Linked DNA regions of Homo sapiens. The protein of the gene in region 1 purifies or fractionates together with the protein of each later gene. This does not show direct contact. Each region holds a gene or a part of one and is shown in the gene's direction. Other genes may lie near its edges.

Region 1 (3,500 bases):
TATTTATTAAGAACCTTCTGTGTGTTAGGTAGAGTTCAGCTGGAGATAAATCAGGGAATAGAACAGACAGAATTCTGCCTTCATGGAACTCAAATTCTAACATTAATATTTATCTTATTCATATAGAGAGAAATAACCATCAGAGTAAATACTTGTTACAGTGTTCATGAAACACATGAACATTTAAACATTAATAGAATTTTGTGATCTGCTAAAGGGAATGATATGAAGACACATTGCTATCTTTTTTTCATTTTTATTTTTCGTATCTGGTTAAAGTACAATGCTATTGTTAATTTCTTTACAATATTTTATTTCCTCATTTCTGAAACTAAGTTGATGTTTATATTTTTACTTACTTTGAGAGCCAAAGGCTGATTTCTTTAATTCTGCCTCCCACTTTAGGCCTTTAGTGCAAAACTTTGTATATTTTACATTGACTGTGTCTTTTCTAGAGTTAGTGTTAGAGGTGGACTCCTAGTAGTCCTATAATTATAAAACAAATTCCAATTATTTTTGACAAAAAACTCAAGCAACTAAGTTAGTGAGGGGTGGAGGGTGGTAGCATTAGGTTTTGTGGCTGGTTTAGAAGATAGCTGTTTCAATCAACCAGAAACACCTTTCTGGACTTTGAACAGAAATCGTTTTGGAGATTTAAAAGGATATGGTGTTGGGAAATACAAATTTTTGTTCTTAGTGTATGTCATTACCTCACTTTTATTTCTTGTTAACAGTCTGCAGGACCAGATATGTGATGTCAGTTTTCCTATGTTGGGTAGAAATATTTTGTTCTGTGTAATGTTAATAGGAAAAATTAAATATCTTCAGGGGTAACACGGGTTAAGTGTAAATGGAGTAAAATTGCAATAAAGAATTAAAGATGAATAACTCTAAGTTTTGAGAGTTTAATAGAAAATTTGTGCTAATGGTGAAAGGCAGTATGCCTTGTTTGAAAAAGAGTGCAAACTGGGAGACCAAATACTGACATTTGTTTTGTGTGTCAAATGGGAATCATTGAATGTTTGAATAATCCTTCTAATCTTATCTCCTCCAGGAGCATTTATGGATCTTCACTTATATCTGTTTAGGTTTGTAGCTTGCGTTGCAGTTTTTTTGTTTGTTTGTTTGTTTGTTTTTTTGAGATGGAGTCTTGCTCTGTTACCCAGGCTGGAGTGCAGTGGCGTGATCTTGGCTCACTACAAGCTCCGCCTCTCGGGTTCACGCCATTCTCCTGCCTCAGCCTCCCAAGTAGCTGGAACTATAGGCACCCACCACCACACCCAGCCAATGTTTTGTATTTTTAGTAGAGGCAGGGTTTCACCATGTTAGCCAAGATGGTCTTGATTTCCTGACCTCGTGATCCACCCACCTCGGCCTCCCAGAGTGCTGGGATTACAGGCGTGAGCCACTGCGCCCAGCCGTGTTGTAGTTATTTATGTATATATCTTTTGTTATCTTCCCTATTAGGCATATGCTTCTTCATAACGTTATTCATGACTGATGAATTTTTTATATTTACCATGGTGCTTTGTATATAGCACTTTGCATATAATAATTGTTAAATGACTGTCTTTTGAATGAGTGCATAATGCTACTTGCCTATCTAGAATATGTGTGAACCTAATTGAAAGAAGGCTGAAGCTCTTGAATAAGAAAGGAAATTGAAATGTTATGTGATTTAGGTCAGTTTTAAATGCAGACCAGACTGGTATAGTGATTATTAATTTGTTAACCTGCTGTCTGTTCTTTACCATGTATTAATATGGCATTAGTCCAGATAGTTTTAAGTGGCCAGATATCTATCTCCTGTCTCAACTGGCTCCAAGGATTTTTGGCACTCAACAAAGAGGCGAAGAACAGAAGGGGGTTGGAATGTGTGCCTCCTTCTTACCCTCACTTGTATGTTTTCAAGGCAAAATATATTACATTCGTAATCAATCTTGTATAACTAGTGCTATTTAAAATAACTGTCATTATCTATTCTTAAGTATTGTCAAATTAAAAGATTATTCTAAAGTCCCATTACTATTCAAGTTTTAAATAAAATAAGTGAATCAATATAATTTCATAATCAAAACTTTACATGTTTGTCTTTTAGTCTAAAGATCATCACCTTTCACTGAATGGTCTATTGTTTCCAACTTTTAACTATGTCCTTTCTACTTTAAGATACAAACTTCTGTTTATTCAAATCTTCCCACTTTCCCTTCTGAAAATCTTTTCTTTTTACCCTAGCTTGTCTGTTCCTTTTATATTTCAATCTAAGTGCTGCTTCCTTTGGTTCCTGGTACTCTTTATCATTTGCTGAACCAGTCCTCAACCTCTAATCACTTCTGCTCTAATGACATAACATATTGCTCCTGTTTGCATACTTAGAACTTTGAAGTTAGCCACATTCTTAGTTCTGTTCTGCAGTCCAATTTATTGTTTGATAACTCAGATTCCTTTTAGACCAGAGAGAGTGAAGTGGTGCTCTACAAGTTGAGTATGGGATGTTTTTACCCCAATGCAGCAAATTTCATATACATATCCAGATTTTTGCTTTTTCTTGAAAAAAAAAAAAACCTGGAAATTTTGACAGTACTTGGTTCTCATTCCTTTGAGGCAGTAATCTTACAGACTTGAGTCAGCTGCTGTCTTTATATAAGCCCTGCATGCTCTAATTTGGTTCAGCCTTCACCATGCTCTATTATTCTATAGCAGGACCAGTTCATGTATTTACATGTGCCAGCTTGGCTCCTATAGTCATTTTCAAGGACAAATATGTTTTCTATTCCTCTGAAAAAAATGCTGCATTTTTTATCACTCCCAGAATTTGCTCTCATACTGTCTAGAGTTCGTATGTGCAAGCGCTGCTTCCTCTTCCGTATCAGTTTCCCTTCCTCTTCCCCATCAGTTTCTTCCTAGCTTGCTGAAATCTAACGTTCATCTCTACACATTTACAGAAAGATGTTTATGCATGATTGCCTGTGAACGTACTGCTCAATTTGCCTTTAGGCTTTAAATGATGTATTTTAGGTATTTTTTTTCAGTATTTGTACTTTTTTCTTTCAGAATCTCGCACTGACTCCATTCTTTGGTGGACCTTCCTCTGGGTCCTCTCTGGGTGTTTGCCCCACAAGCTTAGATCTTCTCTCTTTACACATATGCCTTCAATTATTTTATTTACTTACATGGCTACCAATGCATAGATAAAGCTGTTGACGCAGATTTGATTGCTATCTTATTAGCAATCAAATCTGCATCAACAGCCTTATCATTCTGATCAATATGTATCCTTTCACTTGGTAGTCCCTCACTAACCTATGTTTAAACTAACTTCTCTTGAAGCATTTCTATTCATTGATGATTCATTTATTTCTTAATCAAGTATTCAGTGTCAACTATGTGTTAGATGTGTACTAAGTATTAGGGCTAAAGTATTGAGCCAAGCAGAACACTAAGTTAAGTGAGGTAAAATACATTGAACAAATAGTCACAAGAATACATGTTTAGAACAC
Region 2 (3,500 bases), on another chromosome or scaffold:
TCGTGCCTTTTGTTTGTTTTTCGTTTTGGAGATGGAGTCTCGCTCTGTCACCCAGGGAGGAGTGTGGTGGCGCAATCTTGGCTCACTGCAACCACTGCCTCCCAGGTTCAAGAGATTCTCCTGCCTCAGCCTCCCGGGTAGTGGGTAGCTGGGACTACAGGCACGTGCCACCACGCCTGGCTAATTTTTTGTATTTTTAGTAGAGACGAGGTTTCACTGTGTTAGCCAGGATGGTCTAGATCTCCTGATCTCAGGTGATCCGCCCACCTTGGCCTCCTAAAGTGCTGGGATTACAGGCGTGAGCCACAGCGCCTGTCTGATCATGTTAGTTTTGAGAGCAAGACCCTGTATTAAAAAAAAAAAGAATTGCAAATCTTGACAGCCTATAACTTTGTAACTTTGTTGCCTTTTTTTTGTTTTGTTTTTTGTTTTTGTAGAGTTTTGCTTTTGTTGCCCAGGCTAGAGTGCAATGGCGTGATCTCGGCTCACTGCAACCTCTGCCTCCCGGGTTCAAGCAATTCTCCTGCCTTAGCCTCCCAAGTAGCTGGAATTACAGGCATGCGCCACCACGTCCAGCTAATTTTGTATTTTTAGTAGAGATGGGGTTTTCACCATGTTCGCCAGGCTGGCCTCAAACTCCTGACCTCAAGTGATCCACCGGCCTCGGCCTCCCAAAGTGGTGGGATTACAGGCGTGAGCCACTGCGCCTGGCCTGTTGTTGTTTTGAGACAGAGTCTTTTTTTTTTTTTTTGAGATGGAGTCGCTCTGTCTCCCAGGCTGGAGTGCAGTGGCGTGATCTCGGCTCACTGCAAGCTCCGTCTCCCGGGTTCATGCCATTCTCCTGCCTCAGCCTCCCAAGTAGCTGGGATCACAGGCACATGCCACCACGCCCGGCTAATCTTTTTTTGTATTTTTAGTAGAGATGGGGTTTTACCATGTTGGCCAGGCTGGTCTCGAACTCCTGACCTCAGGTGATCCGCCCGACTGGGCCTCCCAAAGTGCTGGGATTACAGGTGTGAGACACTGCGACTGGCCGCCCCCAACCCCAGTTTCTGATCAGATCGTTGGGCCACAAGACACCAGGTGCCTGGTGGCCTTCAGTCCTGCCCTTTCTCTGCAGAATGACCTTCCCGCCAGCACTCCTGCCTCCAAATCCTGTGACTCCTCCCCGCCCCAGGACGCTTCCACCCCCGGGCCCAGCTCGGCCAGTCACCTCTGCCAGCTTGCTGCCAAGCCAGCACCTTCCACGGACAGCGTCGGTGAGCACCTTGCCTGTTGGTGCCTGTCTGGAGCAGGCCTCGTCTCTGGGGAGATCTAGGAAAAGGGGCTGGAGAGGCAGAATGCTGGGATTCCAGGCTTGGTGTTCATTGCCTTGGTCCTTTTTGTGACTTCAAGTTAGACGCTGCCTCCCTCTGGGCAGTTCCTCATTGTGTCAGCTCGGCGGGTAGGGAAACTGAGGCCTGGAGAGTGGAAGCGGCTTAGTCGGGGGTTTCAGCCTAGTGCACTGGAAAGACAATCTTTGGGGCCAGACAGACTTGGGTTTCAGACCAGGCTTGGGCATTCACCAGCTGGGTGACCTCGGGCAAGTGACCCAACCTCTCTGAGCCTCAGTTTCCCCATCAGTAATCTGAGGAATGACAGTGCTCATCTTTTCTGCCTTATGGTCAGGCCCTGGGCTGGTTCTGGGGCCCCTGAAAGAAGCTGGCCTTGGAATCTGCCCTCAAGGAACTCCCAGGTGGCAAAAAGGGACAGGACCCAGACCCCAAAACTCACAGCCCTGTATAGTCAGGGCTGGTACCAAGGCAGGTACCCAAGATGGGCAGGGCTGGAGGTTGGCAATGGGGAGGCTCAAGGATGTTTCTGAGATGTTAATGGACATTGGGCCTGGGTTTTGTTTTTTTTTTTCCTTTTTTTTTGAGACGGAGTTTCACTCTTGTTACACAGGCTGGAGTGCAATGGCACCATCTCAGCTCACTGCAACCTCCCGCTCCCAGGTTCAAGCAATTCTCCTGCCCCAGCCTCCTGAGTAGCTGGAATTACGGGCATGCACCACCATGCCCAGCTAATTTTTGTATTTTTAGTAGAGACCAGGTTTCACCATGTTGGTCAGGCTGGTCTTGAACTCCTGACCTCAGGTGATCCGCCCACCTCGGCCTCCCAAAGTGCTGGGATTACAGGCGTGAGCCACTGTGCTCGGTGGGCCTGGGTTTTGAAGGATGGATAGGAGTTTGCCAATTAAAAGAAGGAGAATGGCCATAGTCCCAGCTACTCAGGAGGCTGAGGCAGCAGAATTGCTTGAACCCAGGAGGCAGAGGTTTCAGTGAGCCGAGATCGCGCCACTGAACTCCAGCCTGGCGACAGAGCAAGATTCCATCTCAAACAAAAGAAAAAAAGAGAGAGAGAAAGTCGTGTCCACTGGAGGAACGATAGTGCAGAGGTCTGGAGGTGTCCCAGGCTATGGCCAATGTGGAACCAGCACATGGAAACTCTAAATGAAAGGCCAGGGAGCTCCCAAGGCAGTGGGAGGCGGGATCTGGGTCCAGGGCGTCAAAACCTGTCCCCGACTCTTCCGTCTCAGCCCTGAGGAGCCCCCTGACTCTGTCCAGTCCCTTCACCACGTCCTTCAGCCTGGGCTCCCACAGCACTCTCAACGGAGACCTCTCCGTGCCCAGCTCCTACGTCAGCCTCCACCTGTCCCCCCAGGTCAGCAGCTCTGTGGTGTACGGACGCTCCCCCGTGGTGAGTCCTTGGGTGGGGGCGCAGGAGGTGTCAGCAGGGCCCAGGGGCTGGGGGCCGGGAGGAGAAACCAACTACACAAGGAGAGACAAGGGAGTGCAGAAAGGGAAGGGAGCCCTGGCTCAGCAAGTATGCATGGGAAGACAATCTGGGGGTCTCAGTAGTCCCACAAGCTTAATACAAAGCAAGACTTCTGATTGTGGAAAAACGCAACAGCGATTAAGCTGCATGAAGAGGAGCAGTAGGGCCTTGGCCTCGGGACACTGTTTACAAAAACAGGCAGTGGACCAGATTTGTCCTGGGAGGGGCTGGAGTTTTCAGAACCCTGGCCTAGAGCCAGTCTGGGCATTGGATGGAGAACCCTTCAGGATCCTTGGAACCGTGGAGTTCTAGGATTTCCTGGATAGAGATTTTGGTGTCGGTGTGCTCAAGTGAAAACCTCAGCCCTCTCATCTGTAGTGTGACAGGCAGAGAGAAGGCATCTCTGCTGCCTTGGGGAGGGGTGATAAACAGAGAGGGGTATGGCAGGTGGGCGTGGGGTGGCACAGAGGTGGGTTGGAGTCACCTGCCTCACTGACACCCCCCTGGCATTCTCACAGATGGCATTTGAGTCTCATCCCCATCTCCGAGGGTCATCCGTCTCTTCCTCCCTACCCAGCATCCCTGGGGGAAAGCCGTGAGTACCAGGGTGGGGCTCCCTGCCTGGGGTCCCGGGCCAGCCCCCCACCTCCTCTGAGGTCTTACCCTCTGTGGTTGGGGTCTCC
Region 3 (3,500 bases), on another chromosome or scaffold:
AGAGGCCAAGGCAGGCGGATCACCTGAGGTCGAGAGTTTGAGACCAGCCTGACCAACATAGAGAAACCCCATCTCTACTAAAAATACAAAATTAGCCGAGTGTGGTGGCGCATGCCTGTAATCCCAGCTACTCAGGAGGCTGAGGCAGGAGAATCATTTGAACCCAGGAGGCAGAGTTTGCCGTGACCCGAGATCCTGCCATTGTACTCCAGCCTAGGCAAGAAGAGTGAAACTCCGTCTCAAGAAACAAAAAAGGCTGGGCACGGTGGCTCACCCCTGTAATCCCAGCAGTTTGGGAGGCCACTGCGGGCAGATCATGAGGTCAGGCGTTTGAGACCAGCCTGGCCAATGTGGTGAAACCCCATCTCTACTAAAAAATACAAAAATTAGCCAGGCATGGTGGCACGTGCCTATAGTCCAGCTACTCAGGAGGCTGAGGCAGGAGAATTGCTGGCACCCGGGAGGCGGAGGGTGCAGTCAGCCGAGATAGCTGCACTCCAGCCTGGGTGACAGAGTAAGACTTTAAAAAAAAAAAAAAAAGAATGAATGTCCACTGTCAGAAGTGCATGAGTTCTGTTCTCTTTCAAAATATGTGCCTTCCTGCTCATTACTGCATTCCTCCTGTCTTGTCATCACCAACTCTGATTTAGGTATGGCTAGTGGAAGGATGACTTGTATGCTTTTAAGGTTAAAACTGTTTGAAGGGAATTCAGGAAGGACCCGTTCTATCCTGAAGCTTTCTTGTTCTTGTTCTTGTTGTTTTGAGACGGAGTCTTGCTCTGTCGCCCAGGCTGTAGTGCAGCAGCGCAGTTTCGGCTCACCGCAACCTCCGCCTCTTGGTTCAAGCGATTCTCCTGCCTCAGCCTGCTGAATAGCCGGGACTACAGGCGCACCTGCCACCACGCCCAGCTAATTTTTGTATTTTCAGTAGAGGCGTTTCATCATGTTGGCCAGGCTGGTCTAAAACTCCTGACCTCAAGTGATCTTCCCGCCTCCGCCTCCCAAAGTGCTGGGATTACAGGTGTGAGCCACTGCGCCCGACCTGTCCTGAAGCTTTATACACTTGAACAAGCTCCCCTTCCCCTCTAGATGTGTGAGAGATTATTGGAAGAAAACCTTGCCATTGTTGAAGACATCTTGCCCTCACACGCCTGCCTTGGGTATGGAAGGGTGGGTGAGGCAGGGCTAGTTATACCCACCACTCAGTCACCCCCCGAATTATCATCACCTTCTTTTTATTTACCACAGAATCTGAAGAAGAGCTGGCACCCGCAGACCCTCAGGAATGTGGAGAAAGTGTGGAAGGCCGAGCAGAAGCATGAGGCTGAGCGGAAGAAGATTGAGGAGCTTCAGCGGGAGCTGCGAGAAGAGAGAGCCCGGGAAGAGATGCAGCGCTATGCGGAGGATGTTGGGGCCGTCAAGTAAGTGAGGAGCTGGGGGTGCGCTTGTGTGTAGGGAATTGCAGAGCTGTCCTGAGATGCATCATCCAGTGTTGTATAATGGCTGAGTGCTTAAGGGCATGGGTTGTAATGCCAGACTCACCTGGATTCTAAGGTTGGCTTTGCATGTACTAGCTGTGGAACTGTGATCAAATTTGAGAGACTTGGTTACTTCAGTAGGACCAGGGAGTAATAATACCCAACGCCTTCTTAAGGTTTGTTGAGAATCAAATGAGATAACACGTAAGGACTTGCTGTAAGCCGAGCTCACAGTAGATGGCTGATAACCGTGATGGAGGATGGTTGCTCTACCCTGCTTCTCAGCATATGTTGAGGATGCAGTCCTGCCTTTGTTAATGTATTTCAGGCTTGCTTGGGTCGGCGGGGACAGGGGGCAGGGAGTGAGGTCCCATGAGAGAAGGTGGATGGTATGCTTGTCAATAAAAGCTGAGTGATTACGGCCAATGCCACTAGATTTTACCCTGCTTCAATTTCCTGTTGTATAATATAGGATACGAGTAGCAGATAATAACTACCCCATCCATCTCATAAAAGGAGATGGGAGTAAATATGTTTGAGAAAATAAAAAGCATACAATATGCAGTGTATTCTTAAGTCAGAATAAAATAAAATAACAGATAGACTAAAACTGGGGACTAGGTGCGGTGGTTCATGCCTGTAATTGCTGTATTTTGGGAGGCTGAGAAATCACTTGAGCCCAGGAGTTTGAGACCAGTCTGGGTAATGTAGTGAGGCTCCATCTCTGTTTAAAAATATATAGGCTGAGTGTGGCGGCTTATGCCTATAATCCCAGCACTTTGGGAGACTGAGGCAGGCAGATCACTTGAGGCCAGGAGTTCTAGACCAGTCTGTAGTAGGAACCCATCTCTACAAAACAATAGAAAAAAATTAGCCAGGCACGATGGCTTACGCCTGTAATCCCAGCACTTTGGAAGGCCGAGGCGGGCAGATCACTTGAGGTCAGGAGTTCGAGACCAGCCTGACCAACATGGTAAAACCCTGTCTCTATTAAAATACAAAAATTAGCTGGGTGTGGCGGTAATCCCAGCTACTCAGGAGGCCGAGGCAGGAGAATTGCTTGAACCCGGGAGGCAGAAGTTTCAGTGAGCTGAGATCATGCCACTGCACTCCAGCCTGGGCGACAGATTGAGACTCCATCTCAAAAAAACGAACAAACAAAAAAAAAATAGAGGCTGGGTGCAGTGGCTCACGCCTGTAATCTAGCACTTTGGGAGGCCGAGGTGGGCGGATCACCTGACGTCAGGATTTCGAGACCAGCCTGGCCAACACGGTGAAACCCCATCTCTACTAAAAAAAAAAAAAAAAAATTAACTGGGCGTGGTAGCATGCATTTGTAGTCCTAGCTACTCGGGAAGCTAAGGCAGGAGAATCGCTTGAACCCAGAAGGTGGAGGTTGCAGTGAGCTGAGATTGCGCCAGTGTACTCCAGCCTGGCGACAGAGCGAGACTCCGTCTCAAAAAAAAAAAACCAAAAATTAGCCAGGCATGGTGGCACATGCCTGTAATCCCAGCTACTCGGGAGGCTGAGGCAGGAGAATCACTTGAACTCAGGAGTTGGAAGTTTTAGTGAGCTGAGATCACGCCATTGCACTCCAGCCTGGGTGACAGAGTAAGACTTCGTCTCAAAAAAAAAAAAAGAAAGAAAGGAAAAGTTAGCTGGGCATGGTGGCATGTGCCTGTAGTCCCAGCTACTTGGGAGGCTGAGGTAGGAGGATTGCTTGAGCCCAGGAGTTCGAGGCTACAGTGAGCTATGATTTTGCCACTGACTTCGGCCTGGGTGACAGAGTGAGACTCTGCCTCTAAGTAAATAAATAAATAAATAAATAAGTAAAAATTGATTTTAGACTGAATACCCATTAGTCATAAGCCGAGGTACTATCCAAAGGTAAAAATTGTTTTGACATTTTTATTCACCAAAGCATTACACATCATGTGCTCAATTTATCAGAAATTTGGGCTTTTGTGGAGTCTGATTAATGAGGTCAGAGTACAGATGCACAACTGTAGAGAAAGGAGCCAG
Region 4 (2,547 bases), on another chromosome or scaffold:
GAAAGACAAAAGGTAAAATACGATTATTGTTACATGCTTAGTGGATAATTCATAGGTACAATTTAAATGAAGTTGTACATGTCACTAATTTTAAAAAACAACTTATTTTAGCAGTGGCATTTATAACTAAATTGTAAGAGACATAATTAAATATTTTAGCAGTGTAGTTTCTAAATACAGTGTTTTTTTTACCAAACATAATTTCTCCAAATTGTACAAAGTTAAAATTAACCTCAAATTCAAGGGTATTTATTTTCTTTTATAAATTAAGAGGGAATTATCTCACTTTTAAAAACACTTACTATACCTGAGGCAGAAAATACCCTTAAAACCTCAAAATAATATTGCCATAAGTTTTAATTCAATCTGAATCTGTCCTGGAATACAGTTTGTGGTTATGGTTTGTCAAATGCAAATTTCTGTTTTTCTTATTGTGAATATGTATATTTAACGTACAAAATTACATTCTTGGAAATGCAGTGAACCTTATGCTTCAGTGACCCCCTATGTCCAGAGTCACACGTAATTTTGGCACAGAGTCATATGTGATTTTGCTGAGGCAGGAATTGAAGGCAGCAGTGCCCCTAGGGCTGATGTTCATGTCACTGTCCAGAAGTGTGCCTGACTGGCCACATAAAGTTATCTAAAGAGCAACAAAGAAAATCAATTTTTATGGAAAATGTCTCTGAAAAGCCAGCTAAAAGTGCCAGTGACAAAAGGAAATTAAGGCAGTCTAAAGTGGTAATATAGGAAGATCCACAAAGGTCGAGAGCATACTCTGTATTTTTACTAGTGTACATGGTTATTTACTTGATTCTTGAGGGTTCTCGTTTAATCCCATGGCTGGTAGAAAATACCCGTTTAGTGTAAAAAGACATTTACTAGATTTCAGAAGCAGATCCTAAGGTCCTACCTTCATAGAAATGTATCAGTATTGAAACAGTAAAGGCCAAAAAAAAAAAAGCAAAAAAAAAACTTACTTGTTAAAAGTTACACATTTAGAAAGTATAATTTGCATCACAAAATAAACATTTGCTAGATTTAGCATCATTGCGCAAAAAGAACAAAGTGAAAATGAGAACTTTTTATTTGAGGGTAGTTGGGGACTCTTGTTCCTGCAGCCTACTAATGAGTCACACTAAGTGAAATGGGGCCTGGTTTTTAACTACAAGGTTTTACCTCTCCTGCTCTCAGTAATGTTGCTTCCAGAGATTCTACCTTATTGCTATACAAAGATCTCTTTGTTTTGGTAATCCACAGTCAGTTTACAGACAACAGGTGGTACCCCAGAGTTCTAGTGATTGAGTCTTCCTTTCTAGAAGAGATATCTTCTGCCCTATACTCCTTTTTGGGGGTGGAAAAAAAAGCACTGTTGTACATTTGAACTTTTTTTTGCTCTCTACAGGCTGAAATGGCTTTGCTTATGATGGATGAGGACGAGGACAGTAAGAAACACTTCAATTACAACAAGATTGTGGAGCACCAGAATCTGAGCAAAAAGAAGAAAAAGCAGCTCATGAAAAAGAAGGAATTAATAGAGGATGACTTTGAGGTAACCATAGACACCAGGCATAGCCTCTTAAAGCTGGAATTGAATCTAAAGTCAGCTCTGCAGATAGAAATTGAGCATAGTCAAAGTTACCCTTGAAAATGTCTTAGGGGCCCGGTGCAGTGGCTCACGCCTATAATCCCAACACTTTTTTGGAGGCCGAGGCATGAGGATCACTTGAGTCCAGGAGTTGGAGACCAGCCTGGGCAACATAGTGGGACCCTCATCTCTATGAAAAATAAAAAAAATTAGCTGGCTGGGCGTGGTGGCTCATGCCTGTAATCTCAGCACTTTGGGAGGCTGATGTGGGCAGATCACGAGGTCAGGAGGTCAAGACCATCCTGGCTAACACGGTGAAACCCCATCTCTACTAAAAATACAAAAAATTAGCCAGGCGTGGTGGCGGGCACCTGTAGTCACAGCTACTCAGGAGGCTGAGGCAGGAGAATGGCGTGAACCCAGGAGGCGGAGCTTGCAGTGAGCCGAGATCTCGCCACTGCACTCCAGCCCAGGTGACAGAGCAAGACTCTGTCTAAAAAAAAAAAAAAAAAAAAAAAAAAAAAAAATCCAGGTATAGTGGCGCACACCTGTAGTCCCAGCTACTCAGGAGGCTGAGGTGGGAGGATCGCTTGAGTCCAGGAGGTCAAGCCTGCAGTGAGCCATGATTGTGGCACTGCACTCCAGCCTGGGCAACAGAACAAGACCCTGTCTCAAAAAAAAAAAAAAAAGAAAAAAAAAGAAAATGTCTTCAGAAAGACTGATGGTGGAGCCAAAGGCTACTGTCTTTTAATCCAGCACAGCCAGTTCATCCTAGGGTGGATGAAATCATTGTTTCTTTGGTTGAGCACCAGGTGAAATAGTTGACTTGTATTTTGGTAGCCATATTGTACCAAAAATGTGTAGTTTTTAATGTTAGAATCACATGTAGTGATCCTCAGACCAGCAAAGGTATGCTTGAATAGCAGGTTCATGTCACAGTGGGTCACACTCACTGTGTG
Region 5 (3,500 bases), on another chromosome or scaffold:
TGTGCACATTATATGAAAGGTAACTAAGAGGTATGTAAATCAAAGTTTGACATCTATGACAGTAATTATTTAGCAAGAGAATGAAGAAGTGGCATCAGGGTAGAATTATGAGTAATTTCACTTTAAAAAATGCACAGGTATTATGAAGCATAAGAATGTATATATTTAACACTTACAAATCTTTTCAAGTTAAAGAATGTATTACGAAATACTTCAAACACGATTTAAAAACAATGCAATGAACATCTATGTATCTGGCACCCAGCTTAGGAAATAAATCATTACCAAGAGTCGAGGTGAAACTTCTTTTCATTTCATTATCAAAATGCAAATGCAACCTTTTATTCCCTTTATAAAATTTCCTGTCATCCCCCCCAGGCTGCTATACAGCAGTCCTAAATATGTTAACCTTTTGTTAGAAATTTTAACTTTTATATGACAATTATGAGCCATGCATATGCATTTTATTATGTTAGAGCAGTGGTTCTCAACCTTGACCACACATAAAAATCAGCTGGGTGCTTTTTGAAAACCACACAGCTCCGGGCCCTGGTCCTAGAGTCTGATGTGCGTGGCCTGGGCTGACAGCATGTTGGAAAGGCTCCCCAGGTGTTTCTAAGGGGCATCCAAGGTTGAGCACTGCTGCTAGGAGGACTTGGGAGCTTGCCTGTCCAACACCTGCCCTTCCTGGGTCAGATGTTCTGTTTGGTTTCATTTTCCCTCAACTGTTGAGGAATGGGGGACAGGCACTGAAGTATTCCCTCTATCACATGCCAAAAGGAAAGGGTGGTGAAGGTGGCCGCCAAAGGAAGCACGGGAGCTCTCTTTCAGTGAGCTTTTCTCAGGTGCCACTGACATTCCGCAGAGCGATGGCTGGTGGTTCTCTGTGCCTGGTGCTGCTGGGTGTTTTTGTTTTTTGCCTGGAGGAAAAGAATCATCAGATTAAGACACATAGACAGTTAGAGGCTGGCCGCCTTCGGTGGTCTTTCTTGACACCTAGAATAATTACGAACAGGAACACGGCATGTACTCACACATTTGCAGTGTGCACAGTACTTTTCTTGCCCTTAATGAGTTTACAGCTCCAGTCACAGACATAAAACCCAGCTGAATTCATCCCTGAGATGGGTGGATTTAGTCAGCATACACATTTTTATGTTATTAAATGTGAATGCGATGAGGCTGGGCATCTTCTCCAGTTTGACCATAGACCACACCACTCCCTCTTTTCCTTTATCCGTATTTACCCTTCTGGCCTCTGAGGGTGCTTAAGTTTCTAAGCACAGGAGACAAATTAAGTTCTAGTGAGAAAAAAAAACCAATTTAAATATACATATGAAATATATATAATAATTGTTATAATAATTATATATATAATTTTGATTCATTTTATTTTGGTTTTTGGACAGAGTCTCGCTCTCTGGCCCAGGCTGGAGTTCAGTGGCATGATCTCGGCTCACTGCATCCTCCACCTCCCAGGTTCAAGCGATTCTCCTGCCTCGCTGGGACTGCAGGCACCCGCCACCATGCCCAGCTAATTTTTTGTATTTTTAGCAGAGATGGGGTTTCACCATGTTGACCAGGCTGGTTGCGAACTCCTGACCTCCAGTGATCCACCTGCCTCAGCCTTCAAAGTGCTGGGATTACAGGCGTGAGCCACCGCGCCTGGCTATATATAATTAATATAACAACCTAGATACCTTTTCAACTACAGTCTAGGTTTTTATTCTCCTTTGTTCCCTATTAGCAGTCATTTAAAGAGGAATTTTCATAACAATGACAGTGACAAAAATCCCTAGGCCCGTCAGTAGCTAGAAAGAACTTTACTTTTAATAAAGTGTTTCCGTTCTAGATAAACATTTTAGATGCTCCGTAGGTAAGAGAGATTGAGTGTTTTTGCTCAAAGCCATGAGATGAAGCCTGACAGAGCAAGAGTGCTCTTCCTCTGAAAGGGTGCCATGCCATTTTTCTGCCTCATGATTTACACCTTCTGGTTGAGCAGACAGGCACCTACTGGGGGAAAATGAGCAAGGAATAGAGCATATCCTTATTTAGTCATGCTGGAATGATAGGTGCTCTCTCTAACAGAATCGTGTGGCTGGACAAAAGCACGGGTTATTGTCTGATTGAAAACTAAGGAAGTCTAGACTCAAATTAGGAGTAATTCAGAATGTGTATTTTATTAATGAATTTCCTTGAATTATATACTGTATTCAAAGCCTGTTTGGGACATCATGTTTTGTTCACCAACCATTGAAGGAAATCCCTAACTTTCTTGCAGGGAAAATACTTTGAAATCCAGTTCAGTCCAGGTGGGGAACCAGATGGTGGAAAGATCTCCAACTTCCTTCTGGAAAAATCTAGGGTGGTGATGAGGAACCCAGGAGAGCGGAGTTTTCACATATTTTACCAGGTTTTCCTGTTTACTTTTTTCCTACCCACTTCCTGTCCCTTCTCTACATTAAAATATTTCTCAGACTTCAGGCATAGACTATAGTCTAGGAAGCCAGGGAGGACTGATGATGATACCATGTACAAGTCAATGTGCAGAATTGTGAGAATGTCCTGCCCTCAAGGAGAGTGAGTTCTAATTGGAGTGATAAGACAGAAATTCCTCCAAAGCTAAATCATCAAGAAAGTATTGATGTAACTTCAAAACAAAACGAGGAGTGTTGGAGTCTTTGCCAAAGGAATTCAGGTGGGCAGGTTTGGCCGGATAGTAGGAGAGGTGTGAAGGAGGTAGAGCCCGGATGGAAAGTGGAGGGGATTGATGAGGGAAGACAGGTGACCTGCACCAAAGCAGTGGAGGTGGGAGAGGGAAAGCCAGTCAGGGAGCCCGGCCTCAGCCTGCCTGCAGGGCAGGCGTCTCCAGAACGTGAGCTACCGGAGGAAAGATTTGAGATAGGTTTGGGATCTTTAATGCCAAATTGAAAAGTTGCCACCTAGACCCTCAGAAGTCATGGAGAGTTTGGGGCCAGAGCAGCTTGCAGGGTGCTTTTTGATTATGTTACAGGCTTCAGCAGTCATCTGAGTCAGCTACTTTTATTTTATTTATTTTTTTATTTGAGACAGTGTCTTGCTCTCTTGCCCAGGCTGGAGTGCAGTGGCACAATCTTGGCTCACTGCAACCTCTGCATCCTGGGCTCAAATGATCCCCCTGCCTCACCCTCCCAAGTAGCTGGGACTATAGGCACATGCCACCACACCTGGCTAATTTTTGTATTTTTCGTAGAGGTGGGGTTTCACCATGTTACCCAGGTTGGTCTCTAACTCTCGGACTCAAGTGACCCACCCACCTCAGCCTCCCAAAGTGCTAGGATTACAGGCGTGAGCCATTGCACCTGGCCCTGATTCAGGTACTTTTGTAAAAGGTTTTTAAGTACTTAAAAAATATAATGATGTTAATAACCAAATTTTTTATGTTCTATTTACTTATTAGTATTTTATATTGAAGATCCACATTAGACTTTCTTCGAAGAAAGACCTGGTCACTGTTTTTT
Region 6 (4,082 bases), on another chromosome or scaffold:
TCCCAGGCTTGAGTGATCATCCCACCTCAGCCTCCCAAGTGGCTGGGACCACAGGTGCACACCACGGCGTGGCACCCAGCTAATTCTGTTTTATTTTTTGAAGAGACAAAGTCTTACTATGTTGCCCAGGATGGTCTTGAACTCCTACGCTCAAGCAATCCTCCCACCTTGGCTTCCCAAAGTGCTGGGATTAAAGGCATGAGCCTCCGCACCCGACCTATTTTCGTTATGAATTACCCAGTCTGAGGTATTCAGTGATAGCAACAGAAAATGTACTAAGGCATAGACACAGAGGAAAGACAGCCACGTGAGGACAGAGGCAGAGGCTGGAGAGATGCACATGCAAGCCAAGGAACACCCAGGATGGCCAGTGACCCCCAGCAGCTGGGAGAGAAGCAAAGAAAGAGTCTGCCCACAGCCCCCAGAGGGAGTGTGGCCCTGCGCACATCTTCATTTCCAACTTCTGGCCTCCAGAGCCGTGGGAGAATACATTTCTGTTGTTTGAAGCTATCCAGTTTGTGGAACTTTGTTACAGCAGCCCTGGGGAATGAATACATGGTCTTAGAGGGGAGACTTTTGGTATTCAGAAAAAGGCCTTGTCCTGTGTGAATTTCCCATCTCTTTATGGCTGCCTGAAACCCCCCCGCCCCCCTTAACATGCTTCTTTCCTTTAGAAGAAGGGACAGATCCAGGCTTCTATTCATGTGTCCCTGGAAAGTCACATTCCTCGGTTGCCTCTATCATGTCTTCAGTGCAACTGCTTCTATAGACCATGTGGCGTGGTCTCAGTGTTGGAAATGTCTCCTTCCTTCCCCCGGGGTGGGCTCCCTCCTTGGGTCTCCAGCCTCCATGCAGGACCTGGGGGAGGGGGACTGAGTGGGTGAGATCCCTCCCAGGGCAGCATTCGGCAGACCGCAAGTCAAGGTTGCAGAGTGTATGCAGCCAGGGGTAGCAGCCACTTCAGGATCTGGGTCTGGATTTGTGCTGAGAACCACTATGACCTTTTAAAGCCAGTGAGGAGGTTTTCTGGGGGCCCAGAAGCCCTGAGCCCATTGGCCAGACCTCCTGGGAGAAGCGGAGCGGATTTGCATCAAAAAGAACACTGGCTTCATTGAAATTCTCCTCATCTTGAGAGAAACAAAACCACAAAGAAAAGGAAAGTTTTAATTCTGAGAAACTTCACTGAGGAGCAATTTTTTTTGAGCTTCTAAAAATAGAGAGGAAATGAGCCTCTTTGGGTCACTCTAGTTGCCGCCTCCCCTGCCCCATGCCCACCCCCACTGCTCACTCAAGGCTAGCCTCTCTCAGTGGGTGACTGAGCTGTCTTCAGTGGAAGCCCGAGGCAGATGCCACGCAATTCTGGAGCTGGATACGGCTGCCCACACGGGGACCCCAGCATGCTGGACAGCAGAGAGACCCCACAGGAGAGCCGGCAGGACATGATTGTGAGGACCACCCAAGAAAAATTGAAAACCAGGTAAGTCATTGGTTGGGTTTCTGCACACTGCACCTGTGGGCCGAGTTCTAGACTTTGCTCTGCTGTGTGAACTTGGGCAAGCTGCTTCTCTCTCTGAGCCTCAGTTTCTTCACCTGGGAAATGAAGGGAAGGATCTGGGCGATCCGTAAGATGGAAGAACTGGTCATTTGGAGGGCTACTTAGCATGGCTAAGAAAGGCTCATCAAAGAATGAGGCACATCCCAGGGGTATGAGCTGGGGCTGCAGTTGGAGACCAGTTGGATCTCAGTTGGATGGAGGAGGAATTTTTCAGTCAAGAATGTTTCCCTGTCTCCTCAAGGGGGACTTTTGCCTGCGGGGGTCAAAGACAGATAAGTTTTGGTGGGGACCCAGAGGTTCCCGCTCCAGTTTGCTGCGTGACCTTGGCAAGTGCCTTTGCCCTCCGTGGGCTGTAGCTTCCCTGTCTGAATATGAGTGCAGTGGCTGAGGTTTCCCTAAAGCCCTTCCACTGTATATATTCCAGTAATCTGTGATTTAGAGGAAGTGGATTCAACGTATCAGGCATTCACCAATGCCCACCCTGGCCCAGGCCCTGTCCATCCAGGGAGTAGGGGATCCTGAGAAGATGAGACTCAGTCCCAGCCCTGGGATGCCCTGGCCAGAAGGCAGGAAGAAGGCAGGCGCACGCGCACACGCACACACACGGAACTCCAGGACCCCAACATCTGTGATTTGTGTCCAGGAGGGGCGCAGGCGAAGGGGCAGAGAGAAGGAGGTTTCTAACTGGGGCGCCTGAGATGGACCTTGACGGTCAGAGTGGAGCCAAGAGCAGTGGGCAGAGAGAACGACCTAACAAAGCAAGACAGGAAGTTTGGGGATGGGAGAGGTCTGGGTGGCGGAAGCATAGAACTGGGGAGGACAGGGGCTAAATACCAGGGTCCAAGTCCTCTGTAGTAATGGGGAGGAATTGCCAGTGTCTGAGCTACCAAGACTACAGCCCCTGTCCTGATGGAAGGTTATGGGGAAGGAAGATAGAGGGAAATGGGAACAGATGTTAATGCGCCTCAGAGATGCAGAGGCCCCTCCGAGGGCTGGCATCTGGGCCCTGCCCTGGGTCTCCAGAGAACCCTGCTAATCCAAAGTGGACTCCTGTTCTTCCAGAAGCAGGGACTCTTCCCTGCAAAGCCTCCAAGAGCATGAGGGCAAGCCCCTCCCTGGGCATAGGTCAGGTGCACAGAGGGTCAAGGGCCCCTGGAAGAAAGCTGGACTGACTTCCTCACCCAAGGGCAGATTCAGGATCTCCTCTGGGCCCCGGTGTCCTGGCACCTCCCCTCCTCCCTGGGGTCTGTGGGCTCAGAGAGCAGGAAGGCCAGGCGAGATGCTCAGAGGAGCACATCGAAATATGTCCAGAGGCCATGCATGATGGCTCATGCCTGTAATCCCAGCACTTTGGGAGGCTGAGTCGGGTGGATCACCCAAGGTCAGGAGTTCTGAGACCAGCCTGCCCAATGTGATGAAACTCTGTCTCTACTAAAAATACAAACAGCCAGGTGGTGGTACGTGCCTGTAATCCCAGCTACTCAGGAGGCTGAGGCAGGAGAATTGCTTGAACCCGGGAGGTGGAAATTGCAGTGAGTCAAGATCGTGCCACTGCACTCCAGCCTGGGCCACGAGAGCAAAAGTCCTTCTCAAAAAAAAAAAAAAGAAGAAAAAGAAATAAATGTGCCCAGAGCAGGGGTAGACAGGCATGAGGACAGCCAGGGCCAGGGGAGTCTTTGAAAACAAAATCAAGGTCTGCAGGATCTCAGGGTCTTCTGCTCCCTGTGAGTGAGGGGCCAAGTGGGGCTCAGGGCCACAGGAGCCTGTGTCTCAGGCCTGTGGTGAAAAGGGGTGGCAGAGGGTCCTGTGTGCCCTGCAAAGCTCACAGAGGACTGGGCTTGTTTTGCAGACATCACTGAAGGAAAGTAGGCAAACTTGAGGCAGAACCCTAGGCTTGTGCAGAGAAGGACTCCCTCCTGAAAGGGTAAATGGGTCTTGGGACCCCGTAGGGAAAGAGAAAGGCTAAAAACCCAAGAGTTGGAGTGTCAGTTCTACTACTTTCTTGCTGAGTGACTTTGGATACATTGTTTAACCTTTCTGAGCCTCAATAGCATCCTCTGTACAAATAAATATACAACGCCTGAACTTCATTGACATTGCAGAAAAATTGGGTGGATTCCATCAGCTAATGTGTATGAAAATGTTTTCAAAGCATAAGAGTTACCCATCACAGGCATAGTAACTCTCATAGCAACACTCTTAGCAGCAGGCTGGAGGTCACATGCCTTGGGTTCCAGTCCAGCTCTGCTCCTAACCCATTCTGTGACCCTTGGCAAGATACCTTCTCTGAGCCTCAGTTTCCCCATCTGTCAAACAGGGAAGCTAAACCTGCTCTGACATTCTTGCAGAGCAGCTGTGAGAAAAGAACTTAATTCTTGTAAAACATTGTTCTAAAGTCAGAGAGAGCCAGGTGCAGTGGCTCATGCCTGTAATTCTAGCACTTTAGGAGGCCAAGGAAGGAAGATTGCTTGAGTGCAGGAGTTCAAGACCAGTCTGGGCAACAAAGCAAGACCTTGTCTCTGCTAAA
Region 7 (3,500 bases), on another chromosome or scaffold:
TTATTTAAGTTGTGTTTCTTATAAGAGACTGGCATGACGTTAATGATCAGTACTTCTGTATTTCTTTATTTTTTGAGTAAGGAAGATTGCGAGTTTTGTATACTTTTACCCACTATTGTATAGCGGTTTCTTAATGTAACACTTTTAGCCATAAAAGTAGATTGTAACATACCTCTACTGCTGGTGTTTGAGCTACTAATGCCACTAGGTTTCTTGATGCCAGGACCTCCATTAAATAAGTAATTTCTTGTGATTTTAAATGTTTTTAAAAGCCTTTCCAAATTAGAAAACATTTATTAAACTATTGTTACAATGGTGAAAAAGAGCTTAGAGCTTAGTGAAGGAGAGACAAGTCCTCAGAAAGAGTGCTGGTGCCCAGCGACGGTGCAGGGAGGAGTGGGTGGGCAATCAGGTCCTGGGTCCAGGCTCTGATGTGGCAGAGGAAGAAGAGGGAGGAGTGGCTTGGGCTCTCGCTCGTATTGTGAGTTGGGAATCACAGGAGGAATAAGGGCTCCGCGTTGGGCATGTGTGTGCCTGACTTGGGGATGTCCGGGTGGAGATGTCTAGGAAGTAACTGGCTTCATGTCCTGCAATCAGATGAGAGACACAGGGCCAGTTAGCATTAGCATGGGGGGCCAGGCGGATGTGGCATGAGCCGAGATCCTGCCACTGCACTCCAGCCTGGGCAACAGAGCAAGGCTCTGCCTCAAAAAAAGAAATCTAAAGTAAGGTTCTAATAAAAGAAAAGTGAGAGTGCCCACAAGGATAAGGACAGATGGGTATCCGTATAGAGCACCAAGACAAGTGGTTAGGCACGAGAGGCAGACGGAGAACTTTTCCCTTCTGTGAATCTTGAATTGGCTGCCTCTGAGAAGTGGAATTGCGTGGCTGAGGAACAATGTGAGTTTTGTACCATGTTTGGGTATTATCTATTCCAAAAATAATTTTCTAAGGGCAGGCAGAAAAAGAGAAGCCAGAAAGTCAGGAAGATTGGTGGCCAGGAGTGTCATATGACACTGGGGTCAAATGACATGAAGACAAAAGTTGCTATTGGGCTTAAAGAGGTCTTCAGCTGCCCTTGGCCGTTTATGTGGAGTAATGAGGTGGAAGGCAGGTTAAGGTTTTCACAGTTCCAAATGTTACCGGCTGGTTGTGTGTTTAGGAGGGAGATTTGGAAAGGGGCATAATTTGAAGTTTAACCATTTTTCTTACACAAAACATTCCAAATTTAACTTAAAGATTTGGTATTAGAACAGGAATGAACGTTAGAATTTATTTATCAACATTCTCATTTTTTGAGTAAGGAAACTAGATCCAGAGAGAGAAAGGAATGCCCCATTCAGATTAGTACTATGCCTGTCTAGCACCTGCTTCTCCTGGACTGGCCCCACCACTTAGCCTACTCTCTGCTTCCGTTTCCTCATCTATAGGCAATAATTGTATATTAAAGATTTGTTTGTGAGAATCCAGTTACTATATGTAAAGTGCTCAGAACAATGCCAGGTATATAGTCTATAGTATGCGCTCACTAAAGGTTAACTATTAATTTGTGATTCAAGCCACCATTCTTTCCAGTATACTATAACCATGATTTTCTTTTAGAATTTTTTTCTGGAGAGACCTTAGACCTTTAATTTACCAGTTTTTATTATATCCACTCCTTCCTAGACCAGGTGATAGGTTTGATCGAGACAGACCGTTGAGAGGACGTGGAGGCCCGAGAGGGGGTATGCGCGGCAGAGGCAGAGGTGGCCCTGGGAACAGAGTTTTTGACGCTTTTGACCAGAGAGGAAAGCGAGAATTTGAAAGATATGGTGGGAATGACAAAATGTAAGTTTCTTTGTAAATGCTATTTTCACTTTAAGATGGTGTCAGCACGTGGTATGAATCTATTATGTGTTAATATTTAGTTAACTTTATAGTACTGTGCTGTTATTCTTGTGAGAAGCTGATCCTGGGACTTTTATGAACCACTCTTTCTGATTTGGAGATTGACTGGAGACTAGCTTCTGGTTTAAGGGACTATTCTTTCTTTCCGTAGAGCAGTCAGAACTGAAGACAACATGGGTGGATGTGGAGTTCGAACCTGGGGATCGGGTAAAGATACCAGGTACGGTGTAAGTGTGTGCCCTCTGAGAACCTGCAATTAAGTGGAAATCTCTGGATCTTTGCTTTTCTTGAAAATGATGTCTTCTGTATTGTGCTTTATACTTGTGTGCCCCTAAGTAGAGATTGATTTTAGGCTTTTGTTTCGTGAGATAAGTTTTTAAAACAGGTTTGCTATGTTGCAGTTAGATTTAAACTGCTTTTAAAATTCTATTACTTTAGCCAAACAAATTTGTGACAGATGACCATGTATTTGCTGATGCCTCAAACATATGGCACTGTACATTTGCACATGCCTCAAAATGCTTTTTGTTGGCTGCACACGGTGACTCACGCCTGTAATCCCAGTACTTTGGAAGCCAAGGTGGACGGATCACTTGAGGTCGGGAGTTTGAGACCAGCCTGTCCAACATGGTGAAACCCCGTTTCTACTAAAAATACAAAACCTAGCAGAGCATGGTGGCAGGCACCTGTAGTCCCAGCTACCCAGGAGGCTGAGGCAGAAGAATTGCTTGAACCTGGGAGGCAGAGGTTGCAGTGAGCCGAGATGGCACCACTGCTCTCCAGCCCGAGTGACAGAGCGAGACACAGCATCTCAAAAAAACAAAAAAAAGCTTTTTGTTTTGTTCATTATTTTTTAAAATGGTGACAAGATCTCACTATGTTGCCCACACTGGTCTTGAACTCCTGGGCTCAGGCAGTCCTCTTGCCTCAGCCTCCCAAAGTGCTAGGATTACAGGCATGAGCTACCACATCTGGCCTAAAATGCTTTTTAAATTCCTGGATATTCTATATGTTTTTACCTTTCAAAGTTCATGTGGATCCTTGACACATCTTCATTTCATAAAATCATTTGTAGATTGAAGCTTAGTGACAGGTTTCACCTGAGGCTCAAGTTGGACATTTCTCTGAGGCTTCATGGTGCCTTAGATCTGTGCCAATTCTTCTGCTAGTTAGAGTGGATACATGGTTCTGCTCTGTTTTATTTCACAGCTGGAGGGATGATGCCTTCCTGGTGTCTGCAGAAGAAGAGGTAGGGCATGCTGCAGGCAGTGCAGTGTGAGCAGTGCTACAGGGCAGGCTTCCCGCTAGTGCAGAGGCTTGAGGGGATCCAGGCTTCCACTTTTCTTCTTTTGAAGAATATAAGCTTTTTTTTTTTTTTTTTTGAGACGGAGTCTTGCTCTGTCACCCAGGCTGGAGTGCAATGGCGCGATCTCGGCTCACTGCAACCTCCGCTGCCCAGGTTCAAGTGATTCTCCTGCCTCAGCCTCCCAGGTAGGTGGGACTACAGGTGCACGCCACCATGCCTGGCTAATTTTTGTATTTTTAGTAAAGACGGGGTTTCACCACATTGGTCAGGCTGGTCTCGAACTCCTGACCTCAGGTAATCCACC

The links.
Region 2: the proteins of ANKRD50 (region 1) and TLE2 purify together in Homo sapiens (affinity purification with mass spectrometry; one large-scale study listed by BioGRID and IntAct). This does not show direct contact.
Region 3: the proteins of ANKRD50 (region 1) and CWC25 purify together in Homo sapiens (affinity purification with mass spectrometry; one large-scale study listed by BioGRID and IntAct). This does not show direct contact.
Region 4: the proteins of ANKRD50 (region 1) and ESF1 purify together in Homo sapiens (affinity purification with mass spectrometry; one large-scale study listed by BioGRID and IntAct). This does not show direct contact.
Region 5: the proteins of ANKRD50 (region 1) and MYO1E purify together in Homo sapiens (affinity purification with mass spectrometry; one large-scale study listed by BioGRID and IntAct). This does not show direct contact.
Region 6: the proteins of ANKRD50 (region 1) and ACSBG1 purify together in Homo sapiens (affinity purification with mass spectrometry; one large-scale study listed by BioGRID and IntAct). This does not show direct contact.
Region 7: the proteins of ANKRD50 (region 1) and HABP4 purify together in Homo sapiens (affinity purification with mass spectrometry; one large-scale study listed by BioGRID and IntAct). This does not show direct contact.

What each region holds. Positions count from the first base shown.
Region 1 is NC_000004.12:124,702,733-124,706,232, reverse strand, and holds part of ANKRD50 (ankyrin repeat domain-containing protein 50), read left to right. Parts: intron 1-3,500.
Region 2 is NC_000019.10:3,008,781-3,012,280, reverse strand, and holds part of TLE2 (transducin-like enhancer protein 2), read left to right. Parts: intron 1-1,120; coding exon 1,121-1,259; intron 1,260-2,578; coding exon 2,579-2,739; intron 2,740-3,335; coding exon 3,336-3,412; intron 3,413-3,500.
Region 3 is NC_000017.11:38,818,822-38,822,321, reverse strand, and holds part of CWC25 (pre-mRNA-splicing factor CWC25 homolog), read left to right. Parts: intron 1-1,248; coding exon 1,249-1,421; intron 1,422-3,500. UniProt on the Homo sapiens protein: Involved in pre-mRNA splicing as component of the spliceosome.
Region 4 is NC_000020.11:13,716,373-13,718,919, reverse strand, and holds part of ESF1 (ESF1 homolog), read left to right. Parts: coding exon 1-12; intron 13-1,405; coding exon 1,406-1,552; intron 1,553-2,547. UniProt on the Homo sapiens protein: May constitute a novel regulatory system for basal transcription. Negatively regulates ABT1.
Region 5 is NC_000015.10:59,226,372-59,229,871, reverse strand, and holds part of MYO1E (unconventional myosin-Ie), read left to right. Parts: intron 1-2,281; coding exon 2,282-2,413; intron 2,414-3,500. UniProt on the Homo sapiens protein: Actin-based motor molecule with ATPase activity. Unconventional myosins serve in intracellular movements. Their highly divergent tails bind to membranous compartments, which are then moved relative to actin filaments.
Region 6 is NC_000015.10:78,231,766-78,235,847, reverse strand, and holds the start of ACSBG1 (long-chain-fatty-acid--CoA ligase ACSBG1), read left to right. Parts: upstream 1-1,282; 5' UTR 1,283-1,346; coding exon 1,347-1,477; intron 1,478-4,082. UniProt on the Homo sapiens protein: Catalyzes the conversion of fatty acids such as long-chain and very long-chain fatty acids to their active form acyl-CoAs for both synthesis of cellular lipids, and degradation via beta-oxidation.
Region 7 is NC_000009.12:96,463,669-96,467,168, forward strand, and holds part of HABP4 (intracellular hyaluronan-binding protein 4), read left to right. Parts: intron 1-1,668; coding exon 1,669-1,830; intron 1,831-2,041; coding exon 2,042-2,110; intron 2,111-3,500. UniProt on the Homo sapiens protein: Ribosome-binding protein that promotes ribosome hibernation, a process during which ribosomes are stabilized in an inactive state and preserved from proteasomal degradation.